Homo sapiens: one gene and its partner. The protein of the gene in region 1 interacts with the protein of each later gene in a biochemical or structural test. Each region holds a gene or a part of one and is shown on either strand. Other genes may lie near its edges.

Region 1 (2,778 bases):
GAAGTCCGCTGGGGAAGCAAGCAGCCCCCGGGCAGCTGGCTGGGGACCCTGGCCCCTCATGCTATCCACCGCCGGCCCCCCAGCTTCCCAGCCCGGACACCGCCAGCTCCTGAACTTTCATGCCCTCAAAGCCCAGCCTCTGCCAGGGTCCCACCCCTGTTTACAGAGCTACCCGGCCTTGAAAGGGACACTGGGGACCCAGGCAGGGCGCCACAGGGTACAAAGCTTGACCTGTGACTGCTAGAGGTCGCAGGGTGAATTGGGCAAAGGGTGGCCCGTGTGGGTGTTGTGTGGGGCCGGATGGCTTCACAGGGAAGGTGAAGGTGGGAGGCTGAGTCTGCCAAATAAGAGAGATGGGCATGGGCCCAGGATGTGCCACACAGCAGGGGGTCCCATGGGGGTCAGCGGGGGAGATGGAGCAGGGCTGGGAGCAGATGGATGCAGGGCACGGGCTCAGGAACGAGACCGTTTCCAGCTGCTGAGACTCGGGGAGGGGGCTCCCTGAAACAGCCTCATCCCTCCACCCCTCTCACCCCACGGGGAGGAGGCTCAGAAAAGACAGAGGCGTGTGGGTCCCAGGCAGGGCCTGTTTATCCTGAGAGCGCGCATGCGCTATGGCTTACGAGGCAACAGCGGTGCCGGTCGATCGGTGGTCGGTTCGGGGGTGCGGGGCCCGGGAGGGAAGTGCAAAGTCAACAGGGTGTCCACGGGGGAGCCCGCCAAGCAGGGCTGAGCCAGAGGCCAGGCGTCCTTCCCGGGTGCCGCTCTCACACACCTACGTTCCCCAGGCCTGGGAGCTGCCGCGCGGAATGAGGGGCCTGTCCAGAGGCCGCCCTCCTCGGGGACGTGGGGCCTCCATCCTCAGGCCCCTCGGAGAGCCCAGGCCCCCAGCAGGGCACAGGCGCACAGGGTAGCTGGGTGGGGAGCAGGGTGTGGCCTAGGGACCCCCACACCAGGGCAGGTGGGCAGGGGCAGCTCCTACGGCCACATCAGGCCTCCCTGGCCTTACCCAAGGTCCCCACGAAGAGGCTGGGCGCCCCAACTTGGCCACTGGGAAGTCCCAGGGACTCCCACTCAGGACGGCCGCTGCTGAGGGGAGGGGGCGGGGAGGAAATGGTTTGCAGAGAAAGGTTTGTTTTATTGCAATTATTTAGAGCGCGTCCCAAGGGGGAGGGGAAGGGGGAGGGGAAGGGGGGGGGTCTCTGGTATTAAGTGGAAACATGTGTGGAGCTGGAGATCTTTTTGGAAAAAAAGCAAAAACACAAATTCCTTTCAGTCAGCAGGCCCCGGCAGAGCAGCAAAGGCCCTCGCCCCGCGGCTGCCGCGCGCTCGCTCGCTCTCTCTCTGTCTCTCTCTGTGTCTCTCTCTCTCTCTCTCTGTCTCTGTCTCTGACTCTCTCTCACATCTCTGGGTCTCTCTCCCCCTATCTTGCTGCCACAGGCCCCCAGTACCTGGTGGGCAGGGGCAGGATGGGGGCTCACCGGGGCTGGGGCTGATTTCTGGGCAATGGCAGGACCACCCTCCAGTCCACTGAGGCTGGGGGAGCTCGGGGCAGGCTGAGGCCCAAGGTCCGTGCGGGAGGGGTCCCAGGGTCCCGAGACAGGCAGGAAGGGGCTCAGAAGTTGCTGAAGATTTCACGCTTCCTGTTCCAGTCCATCTGTGGCGCGCGCTTGTTGACTCGCATGGCTCGAGCCTTCTCCTTGGCCTCGGCCGCCGTGGGGCTCAGGTGGAGGCCGCTCTCCTGGAAGGGATCTTGCTTCCAGGCACTGCCATCCTGGGGTGAGCACGGTGGGTGGGGTGTCTGGAGTGAGCCCTAGTCCCACACCCCAGACGGTGGCCCCTCCTAGGGAGCAACCAACAGAGGCTGCCTGCTGGGGCTGGGGCTCACGAGGACTTCCTGAACAGAGACCCCACTGCCCGGGCTGACATCTCCACAGACGCCTACCCCAAGGCCTCTAGCAACCCCACGTGTGAGCTCAGGAGTGGAGAACATCCATACCTCAGTGTCCTTGTCGGAACCAGGCAGGTCACTTCGGGACGAGCACGCAGAGCCACCATTGAGCTGGGAAACCAAGGGCAGATTGTGGTTTCACAGACACACACAACACCTGCACACGCACACATGTGCACAGAGGCACACCCCCCCCCAGTGTGTGCTCCTCCACTCGGCAGGGGGCCTCGGGCCTCTGGTGGACTCCAGATGCGGCGGGGCAGGCACCGGGCGCCTGGCAGTGACAGGCAGGTGGCCTGGCCGGCTCATGGTGCAGAGGGGGTTCAGGTGCAGGAATGGCCGGCGTGAGCAACGCCTGGGGTGAGGCCACCGCCAGCTCCCTGAGGAGGCAGAGACTGGAGGGCAACTCCTTACCAGGTGGTGCCCAGGAGAGGACAGAAGGCAGTGGCCCCGACCCCAGGGGCCCCACGTGGCTTGTGTGTGGCACGACCCAGGATGAGACCCACAGGGGCATTAAAGGGAGGTGACAGGGCTAAAATCGGGTGTCACTAGCACACCTCGAGGACGGATCTCCAGGGAGAAGGGGGCCTCTGTCGGGCCTGGGTACCCCCAGAGGCACCCTGTGTCTCATGGGCACCCCACCCTCTTACCTGGGCAGGGCTGGTTCCATTGGTGACGGGTGACGGCAGAGGACCTGTGGGGACAGCGTGTCAGTGGCTGCTCAGCCACCACACCGCACCCACCCTGTGCCCTGGGCCGTGGCCCACCTTCCACGTGCTCCTCGGTGGGTGTGACCCGAAGCCGCTTGAAGTGTTCATCTGTCTCGG
Region 2 (3,653 bases), on another chromosome or scaffold:
TCTTGTTGCAATGGCTGTGCTAACAGATAAATAGGTCCTAAAGTTCAGGGAGGCCAGAGGTGGGGCCACCACCCCTATGGATGAATGAAGGAGTGTGGGAGTCATGCGTGCTGGAAGCACATATCTTTCCCTCTCCTGAACATCCCAACTCCAGAAAAAGGGGTGTGCCTCCTCCTGGCCATGGAGAAGGTGAAGCCAACAGCTGGAGGTAGAGGCTGAGCCAATTCCTTGAGCCAGTGAGGGGTGTGTTGGTCAGCTTTCGGTGGTCAGGCTGCCCAATGGCCACTCAGTTTTCAACCCATGACTGCCTGCCTGCAGTCTAGGCCATCAGGGGTGACCCCCAGTCATATCAGTAGGCTGGTCTGTCTGTTGGGAGGCCCAGGGAGTCAGCAAGTCTCTAAGGATGTGTGGGAGCCTCCGTCAGTCACTCCAGAGCTCTCCATCAGCTGGAGAAAATACAGCACAATGGGTTTGTCTTGAGAGGGGTGGAGGTGGCAGAAGAAGAAGGATAGTGGGGAGGGGGTAAGACAACAAGATGGCAAAGGCAGTGTAGATGGTAGTTGTTGGGCAGGTGGCAGTATTGCTGATGGTGCTAATGTTGCCTTGGTGATGCTGGAGGTGGTGGCAGTGGTGCTGGTGCTGGTGATGTACCAGTTGTGATGGTGCAGATGGTGGTGATGGTGGTTATATGGATGGTTACAGTAGTGCTCATGGTGGTAACGGTGATGCCAGTGGTGGTGGTGGTAGTACTGGGAGGGACTGGTGATGCTGGTGTTGGTGTTAGTGACAGTAATGATGGTTATTGATGGAGGTACTAGCAGCAACGATGGAAATGGTAGTTAATGGGTGCTGTAAATGGAGTGAGGTGGACAGGGATCAGCCCCCTCACCAGCATGGATCCCCCATGTCAGAGGCACAGGGAGAGCTTCAGGTTAGTCTTGGAGGCCCCTGGATCCTGGCAAGTCCAACTTGTCCTCCCTTAAGCCATCCCATCATTCTGTGTCTACCTCTGCCCCAGCCAGCTCAGCCATAGCTGGGGAAGCAAAGAGACTAGGATAGAGGAGCTTAGGCCAGCCGCCAGCACGTGAGGATCTGCTCCAGCCCTTCCTGGGGTCCATAGTACCAGCGGAGATCTCAGGGTCCACCTCAGCCCCCAGAGACACCAGAAGCACGGGCCACCCACAGACGCAAAGGCTAAGGAGCTGCCGCCTCACTCACAGACGCACACACGCCGCCCTATGCCCAGAAATACATGTGCACGTGCATGCTCACAAACACGTCCGGCTCGCGTCCCATACTGACAGGCTGGACAGTCTCCATGTGAGAACGCGCACGGACGGGCACACACAAGTGCACGCGCCGGCCACTCGAGAATGCGCTGCCACTCGCGCGCGCACGCACAGGGACGCGCACGCGGCTCCGCTAAGTGGAACCAGCAGAACCCAAGGCCGGCCGAGCCAATTGGAGACTCCTTGGCCCTGGAAGCCCTCGCTGCTGCCGCCAAGAGACGCGGTCAATTAACTTCTCCCTGCAGCCAGGCTCTCTGACCCGGCCTGCCCGCCCCTCTCGCCGGTGCCCGCCCCATGCCCGACCCGCCTTCTTCCTCCCCTGCCTCCTCTGGGTCCTCCCGCCCTTCACAGCCATGCTCGGACTGCAGGGCCCCGGCCCCGCCTTGGCGCGTCTGAAGGATGCAGCTCTGCCGCGGAGCTGAGGAGACGTAGCCTTCTGGGGTAGGGATGGAGGGGGTCGTCTCAGGGGACATACCCCTGCCCAGGGGTCTGAGGAAACACGACCCTGAATTAAGAGGGATGGGGCTGAGGGCTTCACAGCCCCGCCCTGGGGAGGTTTCAGAGACCGCCTTAACCTCTGCGGGTCACATTCACGGGAATGGCTGGGCTAGGCACACCAGGCTGCTCCCAAGTCAGAGGACAGAGGCTGAGACCCCTCAGCAGCCACCTGCTCTGGGTGAGCCTCCACCCGCATGATATTTCATTTCCTTTCTTATAATGAGGCCAGTGAGTCCCGGTGGGTGGCAGCCAGGGCCCAGGGTGTGCAGGTTGGAGGGAAGGGAAAGGACATTCCAGGCAGAGAACAGCAGGAGTGAGGGCCTGAGTGTCATCAGAACTCCGAGTCTGGATGGAGGGAGCTCCCAGATAAGCAGTGGAATGAGAGGGACTCCCACCCCCAGCCAGCACCAGAGTGCCCAGCCCAACCCAGGCCGCATGCCAACAGTTCCTCCATCCTCTCTTTCTCTCTCTTGGGATTGTAAGGAGGGGAGGCATTGAGGCACTCACCGTTCACTGGGGACAGCATTGACTGGGGAGCTGGGCCAAGATGGAAACTGGTGACTCCCAAGACCCCCCAGGGTGCCAGGACTTGAAGGACTCCAGGCTGGGTTTGTCTCCCCACAGTTCACCACTCCTTATCCACCCCCTGCCCCCGACTCATGTCCCCAGCAGGCAGCCAGGATCCTGTGTGGATCCATCCTGGGACATTCCATTCCAGTCCCATGTACCCCTGGGGAAAGGACTGGACAGAGAATATCAGTGACTGCAGCCTACAGGGTTACTGGCGGGCAGGCAGGAGAGAGCCCCTGCTTTTTCCCTTCGATCAGGCAGGCCCTACCCCTCAGAGCCACAGCTTCCCATCTGTAAGGTGTGAGCTCCATAGAGCAGATTCCCCACATGCAGGGGAAATCCCACCTTCCCTCTAGAGTCAGGGCCTTTTGAAAGGGGGTAGTCCCTCTGGGAAATTGGGATGTCTCTGGGACCTGCTGCTGCGCCGGAAAGTCCTGCCTGTGGTCTGACCTTCGGCTTGGCAGGTGGATGCAGATGACGTCATGACTAAAGAGGAACAGATCTTCCTGCTGCACCGTGCTCAGGCCCAGTGCGAAAAACGGCTCAAGGAGGTCCTGCAGAGGCCAGGTGGGGGTCAAAGGAAGAGGGTCTGGGGATGAGGTCAGGTGAGGGAGGGGCCAGTCAAGGGCGGGACCCAGGATACAGAGCCAGGTGAAGGCTCTCTGTGGGGGCGGACTTAGGTAAAGGGGGCCAGGCCAAAGTGAGAACCAAAGTGGGGTGCGTGGTGCAAGAGTGGAGTCAGCAGGCTCGGGCATCCATGGCTTGTCCTAAGTCTCGAGCTCAGGTCCCTGTGTTGCCCACAACCAGCACTCAGACTGATAGCTGTCGGGTTAATCTCATCAACTGAAGAGGCCCAGACCCCAACTGACTGAAGGAGAGGAGCCGCTTCCTCCCCTGACAAGCCCTTAGGGTTCTGCAGGGGTTGAGGCTGGTGATCGCCCAGAACACAAGCACACAATGACAAACACACTCTGTGGCACACAGATTTTGCTCACACTCACAGAGACTCACATGGTCTCTGCAGTCACAGCCCCACCGATGCCAGCCCCAACAGTGGCTCCCAGTCACATCGAGATCTGGGGGGTCAGATGGGCCCCCTCATTCTGGGTCCTGAACCCAGCCCCTCTTCTTAATTGTGAAAGCCTGGAGGAGCCTCTCTTTGCCCCTCATCATCCACCATGGAGCCTCTCGCTTCCTACTGTACCCCACCCTGCTACCCACATCCCCACACTGAGGCCCGAGGGTGGAGGCAGGAAAATGAGCACAGTCATTCTCATCCCAGTCCAGGCTGCTTGG

What was found.
Region 2: the proteins of NHERF2 (region 1) and PTH1R interact in a test that uses a peptide from one of them, tested with the Homo sapiens proteins (2 studies listed by BioGRID and IntAct, with this or other methods).

What each region holds. Positions count from the first base shown.
Region 1 is NC_000016.10:2,036,822-2,039,599, reverse strand, and holds the end of NHERF2 (Na(+)/H(+) exchange regulatory cofactor NHE-RF2), read right to left. Parts: coding exon 2,719-2,778; intron 2,646-2,718; coding exon 2,602-2,645; intron 2,063-2,601; coding exon 2,000-2,062; intron 1,844-1,999; coding exon of another isoform or gene 1,814-1,843; exon of another isoform or gene 1,775-1,813; coding exon 1,616-1,774; 3' UTR 574-1,615; downstream 1-573.
Region 2 is NC_000003.12:46,891,086-46,894,738, forward strand, and holds part of PTH1R (parathyroid hormone/parathyroid hormone-related peptide receptor precursor), read left to right. Parts: intron 1-2,821; coding exon 2,822-2,924; intron 2,925-3,653.